2 separate regions of the Homo sapiens genome follow, and region 1 is linked to region 2. The links come from fine-mapping of genetic effects on gene expression. A gene starts in region 2. The other region holds a variant in brackets. All regions are shown on one strand. Distances are from middle to middle. Region 1 has its middle 13 kb from the start of UBE2L5. Region 2 holds the start of HMGB1 (high mobility group box 1).

The links. PIP is the estimated chance that this variant, and not a neighbour inherited with it, causes the effect.
Region 1: its variant is fine-mapped to the expression of HMGB1 in left ventricle (GTEx, PIP 0.97).

Annotation. Positions count from the first base shown.
Region 1 is chr13:30,431,769-30,440,104 of GRCh38, forward strand. No RefSeq gene overlaps it. Among named protein-coding and RNA genes, the nearest start is that of UBE2L5, 13 kb to the left of the region's middle. The variant C/T (reference allele first, on the strand shown) is at 4,213.
Region 2 is chr13:30,462,706-30,471,024 of GRCh38, forward strand. It overlaps HMGB1 (high mobility group box 1), which reads right to left and starts at 3,231. Exons shown (of 5, transcript NM_002128.7): 1 at 3,091-3,231; 2 at 826-989; 3 at 502-647; 4 at 1-7. The coding sequence starts at 975. RefSeq lists silencers at 1,655-2,294, 2,894-3,203 and enhancers at 2,639-3,414, 3,415-4,190.

The DNA.
Region 1 (8,336 bases), 31 kb before region 2:
TGTTCTTTTCTGATGTCTCTGGGAAAGATGTGATCAACATAAAGATGTTTTATTGCCAATGCCTAGGTAAAGCAATCTCAGTATTCATGTCTCAGAAACATGTCTTCAGATGCAGTTTCACCTCTCTGAAAATGAGCTCTCCTATGGGAAGGTTTGGTTACTAGTATAATTACAGGCTTCTGAGGGTGCCCTGGCTGTGTCTTTTGTCCATTCCCAACTGTTGCTCCTTCTTTAAAATATACATATGTCATGCCTCTGCCTGAACTCTTGACAGTACTGACTAGAATGCCTTTTCCTACTAGTGGACCACATGCATAAAATAGTTTCACAACACATGGTTGTTGGAAGGGCCATCTCTGATGCAGCATATATACCAGCACTTAATGTTAGCATCTCTCACCACTTAGTGAACAAATTTAGTCATAAGTCAGGCTGGGATTCTAATTTTTTTTATTATTTATTTATTTATTTTACAGGCAGGGTCTCTGTTGCCCAGGCTGGAGTGCAGTGCAGTGGCATGATCATAGCTCACTGTAACCTTGAGCTCCTGGGTTCAAATGATCCTTCTGCCTCAGCCTCCAGAGTAGCTGGGACTACAGGCATGTGCCACCATGCTGGCTAATTTCTTTTAAACATTTTTTGTAGAGACAGGGTCTCACTATATTGTCCAGGCTGGTCTCGAACTTCGGCCTCAAGTGATCATCCCGCCTCAGCCTCCCAAAGCACTAGGATTACAGATGTGAGCCACCGTGCCTACCCCAGGCTGGGATTTTAAAGACAGGCAGGCAAGGGCCTTTGTTAGAAGGAAATTGTCCAAAATTTCAGCAAGCAAACATGTGTTTTTTCTTGATGAGGACACCATACAACACACATCTCCACTAGTGCAAGACACTTGGAAATGGGCTTTACCAGCGATATGTCCAGAAGAGGTGAGGCGCTAAGACAGCTAGTTTACTGGCCTCAGTATTTCTCTTGCTCACTAGCAAGAGAAATAGGTCAACATTTCAGAATCACATAGAATTCTGAGGAATCCATGAGGTACAGAGACTCATGCCCACGTCACCCTCTAAAGTTCAAAGGATATGCCTTTACACATGGGAAGATGCTATGCAGTGACTATTAGAAAAGGTTAGAAAAATTTAAAAGGGTTTTTTGTTTTCTGTTTTTTTGTTTGGTTGATTTTTCGGACTCACCAAAGTAGCCACTAGACCATCAAGTTTGAGAGACACAACTTCATAAAACACAAATGTCTGTAATCCCAGCACGTTGAGAAGCCAAGGTGGATGGATCACTTAAGCATAGGAGTTTAAGACCAGCCTGGGCAACATAGTGAGACCCTCATCTCTACAAAAAATACAAAAAAAAGTTTGCCAACTATGGTGGCACATGCCTGTGATCCCAGCTGCTTGAGAGGCTGAAGTGAGAAGATCACTTGAGCCTGGGAGGTTGAGACTGCAGCAAACTATGATTATGCCACTATATCCCAGCCTGGATGACAGAGCAAGACCTTATCTCAAAAAAGAAAAAAAAAGAAGAAAAAAGAAAACACAAATGCCTGTTTCTGTATTAAGATACTCTTCTATTACCATGAAAAGCTTGGAGGGGCCAGGTGCGGTGGCTCATGCCTGTAATCCCAGCACTTTGGAAGTCTGAGGCGGGTGGATCACGAGGTCAGTAGTTCAAGACCAGCCTGGCCAAGATGGTGAAACCCCGTCTCTACTAAAAATACAATAATTAGCTGGACTCGGTGGTAGGCACCTGTAGTCCCAGCTACTCAGGAGGCTGAGGCAGGAGAATTACTTGAACTGGGGAGGCAGAGGTTGCAGTGAACCGAGATCGCGCCACTGCACTCCAGCCTGGGCGACAGAGCAAGACTCTGTCTCAAAAAAAAAAAAAAAAAAAAAAAAAAACAAAAAAGAAAAGCTTGGAGAACCAGAAATTTAATTTGTTTACTCTTTCATTAAGTTGTCCAACAAACTTTATTGAACACGTCCAATGACCAAAAGCTGCACTTGGGTCTGGAGATACAACTGTAAAGGGGACCTACACCCTGCCTTTGAGGAGCCTCCAACCCTTACCCCATTTTAGGCTGTGCATATGTAGTTTCAGGCTAATTTGCACAACTGGACCACCTATTTAGAACATGAGAATCAGAGACAAGTGGTTTCTTGAACTCATCAATAACCAATTATCACTAAAAAGTCTATGTTTAGATATGAGAAAGTATTCCGTGACCTATTTCATAAACCTCATTTAAAAATATACTTGGTGGCCAGGTGCAGTGGCTTACACCTGTAATCCCAGCACTTTGGGAGGCTGAGGTGGGAGGACCACTTGAGGCCAGGAGTTCAAGACCAGCCTGGACAAGATAGCAAAACCCCATCTCTAAAAAAACTAAAAAAAAAGTTAGTGAGGCATAGTGGTGCATGCCTATAGTCCCAGCTACTCAGGAGGCTAAGGCAGGAGCATCACTGGAGCCCAGGAATTTGAGGCTGCATTGAACTATGATGGCACCACTGCACTCCAGCCTAGGCAAAAGAGAAAGACCTTGTCTCTGGAAAAAAACAAAACCAAAAACCACCACCACCACCACCAACACCACCACCACCACCACCACCAACAAAAAACTCAGAAAACAAAAGTAAAACAATGGACTTTTTAATCCTAAAGTGAGGTAATATACCTGAACACCCATATATTTTTGGATATCCACAACAGCAAAGCAGAAAAGGTGAGGTGAAGGAGAGATGCTTGTGGGGGCCCCTTCTTTTCCATCATTTTAGAATCAACTTGTTTTCTCTGTATTTGAGAAGTATTTGAGGCCATCACCCCCAAGAGGCCAATCCAACTGTAATGGAGTCACACAGACTCACATGATCAGATAGACTTGGCTTGGTTGTGTTTTTTGGGTTTTTTTTGGTTGTTGTTGTTGTTTGTTTGTTTGTTTTTCAAGACTGAGTCTCGCTCTGTCACCCAGGCTGGAGTGCACTGGCACGATCTTGGCTCACTGCAACCTCCTCCTCCCAAGTTCAAGTGATTCTCTTGCCTCAGCCTCCTGAGTAGCTGGGATTACAGGCGTGAGCCACCATGCCGGCTAATTTTTCTATTTTTAGTAGAGATGGGGTTTCGCCATGTTGGCCAGGCTGGTCTCAATCTCCTGACCTCAAGTGATCCACCTGCCTCGGCCTCCCAAAGTGCCGAGATTACAGACGTGAGTCACCGTACCTGGCCAGACTTAGTTTTTATAGAAGGGTAAAAAGCCTTACAGATAATGTGGCTGGCCAGAGCCTGGATATGGAGGCAAAAGTCCAGATTTGGAATGACCCATCTGACATGTCCCCTTACTTGTTCGGGCCCCAGGTTACTCACTTGTGAAATGAAGGCATTATGCTGGATGATGTCTGAAGTCCCTTCGCACATTCCACTATTACGTGGTAACAGTGGCATTCTTAGCATGTTTTGTGACTTTAATTCATTGATTAGATATTTCATCAATGACCAAAGTTGCTTCAATGCTAAGATTAGAACAATTTTGGTGAGGCTTCAAAGTTAATAATTAATGCAAATAAATGAGCCATTTCACACCTCTGCTAGTATGCTCTCCTTTCCAACTCTCTGTACAGAAGAACAAATAATAGCAAACAGCAATGAATTAATTCACAAGCAAAGATTACTTCTGGCAATTAGGAAAGACAGACTCTTTTCTGTTTATATATACCTATTCTGTACATAAATATGTGTTCACATTTATAAATATATATATGTACCATTTTTCATTAAATACAAATATTCCCAAATAATATGATGATGCTAACACCTATAATATTTGTTGAGCACATACTGTGTGCCAAGCACTGTTGAGGACTTCATAGACATTATCAATGATTTCTTATTTTCATTTATTTCTTCTATTTCCAGTCTTAATGCCACAAATGATTTCTCAAAATATGGAGATTTGCAAAGTTTATTGTAAACATTTTATCTAGCAGGCACAACTGTTAACAGAGTGTAAGGAAATGACAATTCTTAAAAAATACTCTCAATTTATCTGAACTTTTGATCTGAACTCTCAATTTATCTGAACTTTCTGGAAAGGTATTCATTTGAGCATGTTTATCTGGGGACAGGGATTTTGTCTCCACCAAAGCTTTCCTCTTTTGGACAGAGAGAAAAAATCTTGGAGATTATGGAGGACGGGAGACATTGCCATCC[C/T]TAGAGAGATCAGAAAATTTAAAAAATCTCAGTCTGCCTCAAGGAAAATTTCCTGGCAATGAGGTTTATATTTGATAAGTTGTGATATTTGAACCACATGCTCTGGAAACAGTTATAAAATAAATTTTCACATAACTGAGACAATTTAGGTGTGGTTCTTTCAATCTGGACCGTATCAGAATTCATACTGGAACTGAAATATCTCAGAACCACTAATTTCCATCTCCTTTGTTAATGCAGAACTCCCAGAGCAGTGATGAAACACTTAATCGCATAAGGGATGTGTTTCATATTATGATGATTATAAGGCTACATGTTTTCCCAAAATGTACAAATACAATGTGGCATGTTTTCTTTACTCATATGCCTGCATATGGAAAACAGAAATAAAAATTGTTTACTTTGGTAACAACAAATGCCATTCTCTTGCTTAGTAGCTTTTGATATCCTTCAGCCAAACATGCAGCCTCTCAAAATACCAGAATCTGGCCGGGCACGGTGGCTCACGCCTGTAGTACCAGCACTTTGGGAAGCCAAGGTGGGCCAATCACCTGAGGTCAGGAGTTCCAGACCAGCCTGGCCAACATGCTGAAACCCCGTCTCTTCTAAAAAAATACAAAAATTAGCCAGGCATGGTGGTGGGCACCTGTAATCCCAGCTGCTTGGGAGGCTGAGGCCGGAGAATGGCTTGAACCTGGGAAGCAGAGGTTGCAGTGAGTGGAGATTGCACCACTGCACTCCAGCCTGGGTAAGTGAATGAGACTTCATCTCAAAAAAAAAAAAAGATACCAGAATCTGTATTAAATACAATGAGTTTCTCACTCCCAGCCTCCTTTTCCTCTTTCTTTCCTTTTTTAATGACTCCATTGTTAAATAAGAAATGGATAATGTCAGCTTTCCCAATGGCACTAGTAGTATTTGTTGCTGTTTCATAAGTAATTTAGGAAAGCAACTGAAGCATAAAGGAGCTAATTATTTATTACTGTCTTCTCCTCTACTGGGTATCACTACAATCTTTAATATTAATGTCTTTCTTACAAGTGTAGGGTTGGAAAATTGAAGTCAGTGAGTTTCATTGATAAATTAAGCAGCTATGAAATGTTATCAGGTGACTAGCTGATCCTGATTTTATCATCAAACTAAAACAGTGCTTTGCTTAATGCATGCATTATCTAAATATTTAATCTAAGTGTGTGTTGATGTATTCTTAATTGTCATAGCACCTTCTTTAAGTGAATCTCTTTTAGGGTCATAAGCAGTTTGAGCTGGTTCTCATAAGTCAAGTGCAAGCTTACCAATCAACAGTTCGACAACCAGTGTGGTACGGACAAAACAGACTGAGCCGCGACAGAACAGCAGCCTGAGTGATGATAGCTGTGCTCAGAAGCCAGCCTAGCCAGAGCTGGCAATTCAGGCAATTCACAGGATAAATCAAAAGCCACAGTCTGGGAGCCTAGAATCAGCAGAGAGGTGTCTGATGTGGATATTGTCGGAAAGCGTGTGCATTGTACAGCCAGCGTATGTCAGAAGAAACATGGTTCTAGTACGTTGCTTTTCAAACTCTACAGGGTGTAGGCAGAGATCATTAAGCAAACAGATGTCAGAAAGGACAGAAAGCTCCTTACCTGGTTCAGCTACCACCTCTCTGTAAAGAAGAGTGCATAAAACCCACACAGATAACCCACCTCTACCCACCCATAGAACATCCTCACTCTAGGAGCATGAAAATACCTAGAGGTTTTCAAGTCTCTCGACGGCCGTGTGAAAATTAGCCTAAAATCACATGTGCACAGGCTAAAGATGCAAACCATTTTCTCAAATGAGCACCACATCTTTTCAATTGTTCTGGAATTGGTGACACTACCATCATCCTCTTGATTCCTGTGGAATCTTCTTGGACCCTGACCTTAATGTCCATTTTGCCTGCCCCATGGTGACCCAGCCCCAGTGAGTGTTTTACCTCCAATGGCCGGGAAACCACAGAACACGCTGCCTAAAGCACCATTTATTTTTTATTGTTTGAGACAGGGTGTCACTGTGTTGCCCAGGCTGGAGTGCAGTGGCACGATCTCAGTTCACTGCAGCCTTCACCTCAGGCTCAAAGGATTCTCCCACCTAAGCCTCCTGAGTAGCTGGGACTATAGGCACACCACCACGCCTGGCTAATGTTTTTTTTTTTTATGTTTTGTAGAGATGAGGTTTTGGCATGTTGCTCAGGATGGTCTTGAACTTGTGGGCTCAAGCGATCAATCTGCCTTGGCCTCCCAAAGTTCTGGGACTACAGACATGAGCCACAGCACCTGGCTTTTTTTTTTTTTTTTTTTTTTTTTTTTGAGACAGGGTCTTGCTCTGTTGCCCAGGCTAGAGTACAGTGGTATGAACTCAGCTCACTACAGCCTTGAGCTCCTGGTCTCAGGCAATCTTCCCACCTCTGCCTCCCGACTACAGGTGTGAGCCACCACACCTGGCTAACTTATCACAGATATGAGCCACTGCACCTGGCCAAGCACCATTTTTGTCACTGTCAGTTTCCTGCTTGAGAAATTACAGTGGCTTCTGCATTACTTTAATAATTGTGTCCTCCTTATGACCCTTTGTAGTCTCCAAAGGCTGGGCTCCTCTTCTGTTGCTGAGCTAATCTATTTATTCTCCCCGCCTGCGCTTGGCTCATTCCTGGGCCCAAGCCTTACCACTTGCTACTCTTCCTCTAAATTTGGATTTCTTCCCCTCTCTTGTCCTCAAACCCACTGTCACTTTTGAATTTGAAGACATGTTGCTTTGCACGCCGCTCCTCTTTGGGGTACATCTGTGAGCACCTGCATGGCTAAGAGGGAGTGCTCAGTGAGAACCCAGTGAATGATGAAGGTGTATGTGAATGACGATTGGATGGGAGAGGCTGCCCAAGTGGAAAAGCGGTATTTGCTTTTCAGTACAGGAAAATTTCCGTGATATTTTTCTGGCACACAATAAAGAAAATGCTATATTGAAGCAAATTAATATATTTTAACTTTGTGTAGATGCAGTGGGAATTACTTTTTAAATGGTGTATGGAAATAAAAGAACTGGTTGAAAAGAACAATTTTTCAAATGAATGTGTCTAATGTCTCCCAACAGATAAGGAAGGGAATAGAAATTTGTGAAGAGGATCACACACCATCACTTTTACACACTCACTATGTGATTTCGCAGTAGAATTAGAAAAGTCAAATTTCATAGTCCAAATGTAGAAAATAGTAGGAATTAGGGCTGGGTGTGGTGGCTCACACCTGTAATACCAGCAATTTGGAAGGCCAAGGTGGGCGGATTGCTTGAGTCTGGGAGTTAGAGACCAGGCTGGGCAACATGGTGAAACCCTGTCTCTACAAAAAATATATAAAGTAGCTAGGTGTGGTGGCTGGCACCTGTAGTCCCAGCTACTTGGGAGGCTGAGACAGGAGAATCGCTTGAGCCTGGGAGGTCAAGCCTGCAGTGGGTGGTAATGGTGCCACTGCACTCCAGCTTGGGTGATAAAGTGAGACCCTGTCTCAAAAAAAAAAGAAAAGAAAATAGTAGGAATGGCTAATTGATGAATAGGTTAGTTCAAAAGAGAGCTCCTAACTGCCCACTGGCCGTACCCCAATTAAAGTAACTTCCAGAAATAATTCTTCTTCAAAAATACATTATCTATGCAAAGGATTCTTTATTAATAACATACATCAGGGTTTGGCAAACTATCTGTGGGCCAAATCCAGCCCGCCTCCAGTTTGGGTAACTGTAAGTTGCTTAGAGTACAGCCAGGCTCGCTCTTTTTGGATTGCCGATGGCTGCTTCCAACTACTATGGTGGAGCTGAGCAGTTGTGATAGAGACCCTACAACTCACAACACTGAAGACCTAAGTTGCAGACTGAAAATGAACCTTACAGGAAAGGTTTGCTGACCCTTGACCTACATGATCTAAGGATATAGTGCGTAATTTGTCTGGAAGTGCCATTAACTTGCTTTCTCCAGTGGGAATGTAGCATGGTTGGGTACATTAATCCTGAAATAAGTGAGAGATCCAGACCTCCTGTGTGTCCTTCCCATCAGACACTGACCTAGGGCCTGGAATCTCCCTAGCTTGCTAAGGAAGCAGTGACCTCTGGTT
Region 2 (8,319 bases):
GGCCGAACTAAAAAAAAAATTAATTTTAGGATTTTAAGTTAACAGATCACAAAAACAAATACTATCAAGTGTACACTGCATTGCTATTTAAAGCTGCCTGTGAATTTCTGTGATGCATTGGACAGGGTGCAAATACTATAATATACTAAATATCCTTCACAACCAAAGCTTAATTTACAACTATTTAATTTATACTAGCTAGAACCCTAGATGAACATTCTACAATTACACTATTTCAAAGGGATAGTATTTTTCAAGAAATAAAAAGATCAAAAGGAGATACACTGGGCAAAGGAGACCAAATGTCTAATTCAAATGCTCTGGGAACACTCCCACCCAACAGGAATTTTATACTATTTAAATATAACCAATATGAACAAGTATTAGCTAAGAAACTTTGATTGTACATTTACACTCTAAACTGACAAAGTAGCTTGCTAAATTTCTCTCAGATTCTACTGTAAAACGTGTCTGGGAAGTAAAAACAGGCAAGATACTCACGGAGGCCTCTTGGGTGCATTGGGATCCTTGAACTTCTTTTTTGTCTCCCCTTTGGGAGGGATATAGGTTTTCATTTCTCTTTCATAACGGGCCTTGTCCGCTTTTGCCATATCTTCAAATTTTCCTTTCTCTTTAGCAGACATGGTCTACAAAATAATTATTTGTAAGTTTAAGTTGTAACATTTAAGTAAATTATCCTCAAAACCAATGTCTTTTGCTATGTAATAGCGTCCCACTACGAGAATGCCAACTAGGCTTTTTTTTGCATCCTCAATTGGAAACTGTCTTTTAATTACCTTGTTAGCATGTTTTAAGCCCTCTTACCTTCCACCTCTCTGAGCACTTCTTAGAAAACTCTGAGAAGTTGACTGAAGCATCTGGGTGCTTCTTCTTATGCTCCTCCCGACAAGTTTGCACAAAAAATGCATATGATGACATTTTGCCTCTCGGCTTCTTAGGATCTCCTTTGCCCATGTTTAGTTATTTTTCTAAAAAATAAAATAAATATTTGATGTTAGCAATAAAATTATGACATATAAGACCTTAAAGTACTTAGTAAGGGAATGAAAACCAAAGTACTGGTTATTTAACACAGTAGCGACATCAACCTCCGTAAAATCAGACAAGAATATGGCCGAGAGATTAAATTCCTTGAAGGGGCTATGCCAAGCAAACAAAACAAAACAAAAACAGTCCTTCAGGGCGATCTCAAAAAGTCTAGACACAAAGATATACCCATACAGTATTCCCTATCTATCCGCCCGAGTCTGCTCTGAATGAGTATCTAACTGGTCACTTAAACGATTTTAAAATCTAGAACACCATTTTAAACCAACCAAACCAAAGGTCAGAAAACATGCTGCCAATTCGTGGCTTTGCACTAGATAGGGAATAAACAAGGGCCTAAGCGAGTCGACTCTTCCTAATTATGGGACCTTAAAAAAAAAAAATCACCGTGCACCGAAAGTTTCAAAAAACACCCTCTTTGCATAAAACTTTGCTCCAAAGAGGGAGCAGCAGCCAGCTCCGGTGCTCGGAACCCGGTTGGGGGGTGGCGGTGCCACCGCGAGGCAGCCTCGTTTCCTATCGGTTTGGCCCTGAGATGTATTTCTGTTCTGACTAAACACGTCCGGTCTGAAGTTTCTCCGAGTAAACAAGGATGAGGGACAAAAGCCACTCCTGCTCGTGGCTCGGTGGCCCCCTCCCCCAACTCGGGAAGTATTTTTTGGAGCCGTGAAAGTTGGGGTGACTCCTGCGCGGGGCGAGCCCCCCGCCCCTAGAACTTCGCCGGTGGCCGCGCGGCCGAGGAGAGAGGACGCGGCCCGGCTCCCAGGCCCGAGGCCGCCACGTGCGCCCGGCAGGCCCTGCAGGCCCGCGCCGCCGCCGCCCCCATTTTGTCAGGCTCGGCGCAGGGAGAAGCCCCGCTCGAAATGGGGGCTGGCTCCGCCCGCGGCCGCCGGGGCCGGCGCGCACGGAATGGCCGCTGCGCGTCTTCTCCGCCTGCGCCGCCGCCGCCGCGAGGGCGAGCGCGAGCGAGAATATGGCTCCTTCCCTTTGTGTGTGTGTGTGTGTGTGTGTGTGTATGAGAGAGTGTGTGAGTGCGAGGGTGCGGGCGCGGCGGCGGCGGCGGGCGGGGTGCGAGCCGCGCTCTGGCGCACACACTCGGCCATTACGGCCGGGGGAGGGGCGGGGGGCGCGCGGCCGGGCCCTCCCCTCCGCGCCGCTCCCCTCCCCCCGCCGCGGTGGGGGCCGCCCGAGGGCCCACCCGCCCGCCACTCCCCGTCTCCCTCCGCGCGGGCCGCGCGCCCCGCCGCCCCCGCACGGAGAACGCGGGGCTGTGAAAAGAGAGAGGAAAAAAAAAGTTGCCTCGGAACTGCTGCGCCCAGCTCCCCCGCCCGCCCGCCTTGTTTTCTCTCCAGCCAGCAGCGCCGGGCCCGAGTCAGCCATGTTCCAGCGAGCGCAGCGGCGCCGCTCCCCCCGCCGCCCGGCCGCCGCCGCCGCCGCGACCGGGCCGAGGCCGGCCGGGCCCGCACTGCCGCCCCCAGGCCCCCGCGCCGCCCTCGCCCGCCGCGGCGCCCCGCCCGCCCCGCCGCCCGCCCGGCTGGCCGCGCTCCCCGCCAGCGCCCGGCTCGCTGCGGCGGCGGCCAATGCAGCCCGGGGAAGCGCCGCCGCTGCCCTCCCGCCGCCGCCGCCGAGCCGCGCCGGCCCCGCCGCCCCGGCCGCGCTCCGCGCACGCCGCCCGCCCGAACGCCCGGCCCGAGGGCCCAAAACACGTTCAAAATTTTTTTAATTAAAAAAAAAATTTTTTTTTTTGCGCCAGTCAGCGCGGACGCCGCCGGGGGTGGAAACTCGCGGGGCGCGGGGCTCCCGGCGCCTCAGGCTGCCTGAGGGCCGGGGCACCGGCGCGGGGCAGCGTTCCCGGCGCCCGGGCAGAGGCTCGCTCCGTGCGCAGTTCCCCCCACGGTCCCCCCTCATTTGCCTTTGTGTGGATCCTGACCCGCCGGCTCCCGGCCGCGGGGATCCGGCCGCCGCGCGGGCTGGGGAGCTGCCGGAGGCGCTCTCCCCGCCGCGGCGCTGCCCCAGACTCACCCTCAGCGAGGCACAGAGTCGCCCAGTGCCCGTCCGGCTCTCACTTGCCCCGGTGCTGTCTCTATGGAGCTCAATGTACTGCAATGGCTGTGAGAGCGGGAGCCAGACGCAGCCTCCTCACTCTCTCCGCTCTGTAACATTACTCTCCAGCCAGCGCGGCTCCTATTGGCTACCGCCAACTCACGGGGCTCGCTCATTGGCCCGATACCTCCCATTGTCCTGACCAGAGCCCGTTTGCTATTGGCTGTCTCCGGGGACACGTCATCAAGGATTGAAACAGCGCGCAAATCTGAATGTGTGTGTATGCCGGGCAAAGAGGCTGAGGCGGGAGAGGCAGAGGCAGAGGCAGCAGCTGCTACGGGAAAGCAGAGCTCTATGGTGTATGTGTGCATGTGTCTAACCCAAGCCAGCCCCACACCGGAGCGGCCGCCGGAGCGAAAAGGGCCTGACTTTTCCACAAGTGTCTCCAACTCCTCAGGCAAAAGAGACACCCACAGGTCTCCCCCCCCCTTCTTGCCCCACATTCACGCCCAAAGCCGTTGAGATAAGAGGCCCCAGGCTTTTAATGGCCCTTCAAAAGTGAGGGCGACACTATGGGATCATGTCCCCTGAAAACTGGGGTCTCTGCTGGTGCTGAGGGGCGGAAGCCGCCGAGCCTCGAGCCCCTCAAAGGTCTCTGATTGCGTTACACTTTAGGTCTCTGGAAAGGCAGGGCTTCTATAAGAAAGTGACATGATCCAGCCAGCCGGGTTTAAAATACCCCTTTTCTGGGCTCATAAGCCGTCACGTCAGGCTCGCTGAGCAGCTGAAATCTTGAGTCAGTGAGCAGGCATTCAGTTTCACCCTTTTTCTTGGTTTGATCGAGTTTCACAGCATGTCTAGAACTTTTTATTTAAATACAAAGCACTGTCTTAACTTCCTGGAAATCAAATAATTATTCCATGTAATTAAAGAACAGCCACTTGGTTTGATATGGGGTACTCTAGCAGGAAATGTTTGTGAGGCCCTGGTAGAATTAGCAAATTCATTAGAGACCACATTCTAAACTGTTTGGCTATTTTATTTGACTTGGTGTGGATTACTGTTACAATCAAACGAATCCTTGTGATGCTATCTTTCCCTCCCATCACACCACTTAGTGCATCCATGTAACTGCTCTAGGATTACAGGAGTTGTAGGTATATGGTTACCCGAAGGATTAGATGCAGGCAGAGAGTGCATGTGCCCAAATCCACAGGCTGTGGTTTCTCTAACTCACCAAGCTGGCTGGTATTAATAGACATACTTACGTCTGTAGAGAAAATGTGCTGGCTGTAGTGGCCAGTTCTGAAGACTCTACAGTTATATCAGTCCTTTATGAAACTACTATCTATTCCTTTTAGCCTGAGCAGACCACGCCCCTATTCAGTTATAACAGACTTCCCTTTTTTTTCACTCTCTAATGGTATTTTGTACACTTCTAAATCCAACAACCAATTCCTCCAAATGTAACAGATCAAATTTGGAATAAATCACCTACATCGTGTTAATTTGATTTTTTATATCGCTTATAAGCATCCATAACCTAATTTATTTCCTCAAATGTATTAAACTACTTGAGAGTAAGCTTAGATAATCTTTCCTGTTTTAATGTTGATTTCTTTTTAAAAGAAAATACACTATCGGACTCAGGGATTATAGTCTTGGTGAATGGACAATATATCACACATGCACATGAAAAAGACTATAATATTAAAGAGGATATAAATTGGTATACTGCACATGCAGTGTTTAAAGATAATATATCTAAAGTTAACTTTTATGTTATTATTTTCACACATATTTACTATCCTCTGCTTCCCTCTACTAATCATTCAAATTTTATATTTTTTAAATCTAGATATTTATTTCAATACTGTCTTATCTTCTCAATGTCTCATATTACAAAATATTCATGAGAATGATTAAGATACTTTCAGTGGCATCGATGATATTAAAATTTGACGATTAGTTGAATATGGCACTATCAATATTTTCCAGGAGCAGTGTTGGCTTTGTACTGGCACGGCCATACACTTTACTGGTTGTCTATACCAGCTTGCTCCTGCCAGGGTGCATTTATGGCCACAGGACATCTTGAGAGCAATGGGCCCACACAAGGTTTCTATTTTGACAGGATGATATGGTGAGTAATAGGCACTGGAATTGAATAGACTTGGGTGCAAATCCCAGCTCTGCTACTTACTAGCTGTATGATCTTGGGCATGTTTTTAAACCTCCATGCTTCAATTCTCTCAGCTATAAAATGGAGGGGACCACAGGGTTGTAAAGATTAAACTTTTTTTAATGTTTAAAATTATATAGACCCCTTCAATCCCATAATTTAGAAAACCTCAAGTGCAGTTAACCTTGAGTTTTTCTTCATATTTTAATCTTATATGAAGGCAGTGATTGCAAATCTAGTGAATTTTTTGTTGTTGTTGTTATTGTTGTTGTTTGAGACAGAGTTTTGCTCTTACTGCCCAGGCTGGAGTGCAGCGGTGCAATCTCGGCTCACTGCAACCTACACCTCCTGGTTCAATCGATTCTTCTGCCTCAGCCTCCCGAGTAGCTGGGAATACAGGCATGCGCCACCATGCCCGGCTAATTTTTTATTTTTAGTAGAGACGGGGTTTCACCATGTTGGTCAGGCTGGTCTTGAACTCTTGACCTCAGGTGATCCGCCCACCTTGGCCTCCCAAAGTGCTGGGATTACAGGCATGAGCCACTGCACCCGGCCTTGTTTTGTTTTTTTTAAATCCTAACCTCAAACAATGCTAATCTTCCCCTAGTCTGGTGATGGTACCTTTATTTATTCCCAAGTTTAACAGAGACTATATCAGAGAGAAGAGTTTAAAAACCACCACTTGCAGGCAATTCATTTCTTATATTTGATTTTCTGTGATATAGGCAGGGAAGAACATAAAAAAGACAGAAATTTTAAAATAAAACCAACATCTTCTAGCTCTAACCCCACAATCTTGATGTTCCTTTATGATATTAGACGCTTTTCTTCTTCCACATGAATCCTTAGTCACAAGTTGACATATTTTACTTTACAGTTATTGGGTTTTTGTTGTTGTTGTTTTTGTTTTTATGAGACAGGGTCTTGCTCTGTTGCCCAGGCTGGAGTGGAATGGCACGATCTCAGCTCACTGCAACCTCCACCTCCCGGGTTCAAGCAATTCTCGTGCCTCAGCCTCCCGAGTAGCTGGGACTACAGGCATGCACCACCATGCCTGGGTAATTTTGAATTTTTGATAGAGACGGTTTCACCATGTTGGTCAGGCTGGTCTTGAACTCCTGACCTCAAGTGATCTGCCCGCCTCAGCCTCCCAAAGTGCTAAGATTACAGGCATGAGCCCTGGTACCCGGCCAAGTTATTGGGTGTTTTATCCCAAATTACAAAGTCATCCAGTCGAAGAGGCCTGAACACCCTCTCCCATGCTCAATTTAAACAACTGAATTACAGATCGTCATTAATGTACTTTATGCCCTTCCTCCATCCCCTCTAGGATAGGGGACGTACCTCTTTTCTGTAATCCTGTAATATTGTGTATATTAATTACTGCAATCACAATTGTGGTTCTCCAGTTGTATCTGCTTGTCCCACTGCACTGTACACCTTAAAGGCAAGAACTCTGTATTTTTTGTTTTTTTTTTTCTAAGACAGGTTATGGCTGTATTGCCCAGGCTGGAGTGCAGTGCAGTGGCATGATCACGGCTCACTGCAGCCTTGACTTTCTGGGACTGAAGCCATCCTCCCACCTCAGCTTCCTGGGAAGCCAGGACTACAGGTGAGTGCCACCACGCCCGGCCTATTTATTTATTTATTTGAGACGGAGTCTCCCTCTGTCACCAGGCTGGAGTGCAGTGGCACAATCTTGGATCACTGCAACCTCTGCGTCCTTGGTTTAAGTGATTCCCCTGCCTCAGCCTCCCGAACAGCTGTGACTACAGGCGCGTGCCACCACGCCCAGCTTATTTTTGTATTTTTAGTGGAGACGGGGTTTCACCATGTTGGCCAGGATGGTCTCCATCTCTTGACCTTGTGATCCGCCCGCCTTGGCCTCCCAAAGTGCTGGGATTACAGGCATGAGCCACTGTGCCCAGCCCCAGCTAATTTATTTTTATTTTTATTTTTTGTAGAGACAAGGTCTCTCCATGTTGCCCAGGCTGGTCTCAAACTCATGGGCTCAAGTGATCCTCCTACCTTGGCCTCCCAAAGTGCTGGGATGACAGGCATGAACCACCGTGCCTGGTGCTGGCTATTTTTTTTTTTGTAGAGGCAGGGTCTCTCCATGTTGCTCAGGCTGGTCTCAAACTCCTTGGCCTCCCAAAATGTTGGGATTACAGGCATGAGAAACTGAGCCCAGCCCCTATCTTTGAATCCCAAGCACCTAGCAGAGTACTTGGCATACAGCAGGCATTAAATAAAGCCCGTTGCATAAATGAATTAATAGCTGAAGGAGTACGTATTGCAAATTATTGTTTTAACCTTCCTCTTCTATCTTTAGATCTAAAAGCATTTAGGTCTTTCTAAATCAAAAGGCAGGAAAATAGAATAAGAAGCGAATGTTAGGATACTAAGATTGAGGATAGGTGCCAATTACATCTCATTGACGTAACTTAAAAAGGGAGAGGCACAGTTGGAGGGTGAGAGGGGATCTCAAATGTAGAGAAACACATATAGTCTAAGCATTTACCAGTTTCCAATTAGGCCAAGATTATTCCTTGGTGGATACAGTGAACTATGGCAAGCCAAATTAGACTTTATCACAGAAAACTGCAAGATTGTCTGCCCAAAGATTGTTACCAATTGGCTTTTTATTGTTTTATTTTATTTTTTTTTTGAGACGGAGTCTCACTCAGTCGTCCAGGTTGGAGGGCGGTGGCGCGATCTTGGCTCACTGCAACCTCTGCCTCCTGGGTTCAAGTGATTCTCCTGCCTCAGCCTCCCAAGTAGCTAGGATCACAGGCGTGTGCCACCATGCCCAACTAATTTTTGTATTTTTAGTAGAGACGGGGTTTCACCATGTTGGCCAGGCTGGTCTTGAACCCCTGACCTTAGGTGATCCACCCGCCTCAGCCTTCCAAAGTGCTGGGATTACAGGTGTGAGCCACCATGCCCAGACTTATTTATTTATTTATTTATTTATATTTAATTAATTAATTAATTTTTTGAGACAGAGGCTTGCTCTATTGCCCAGG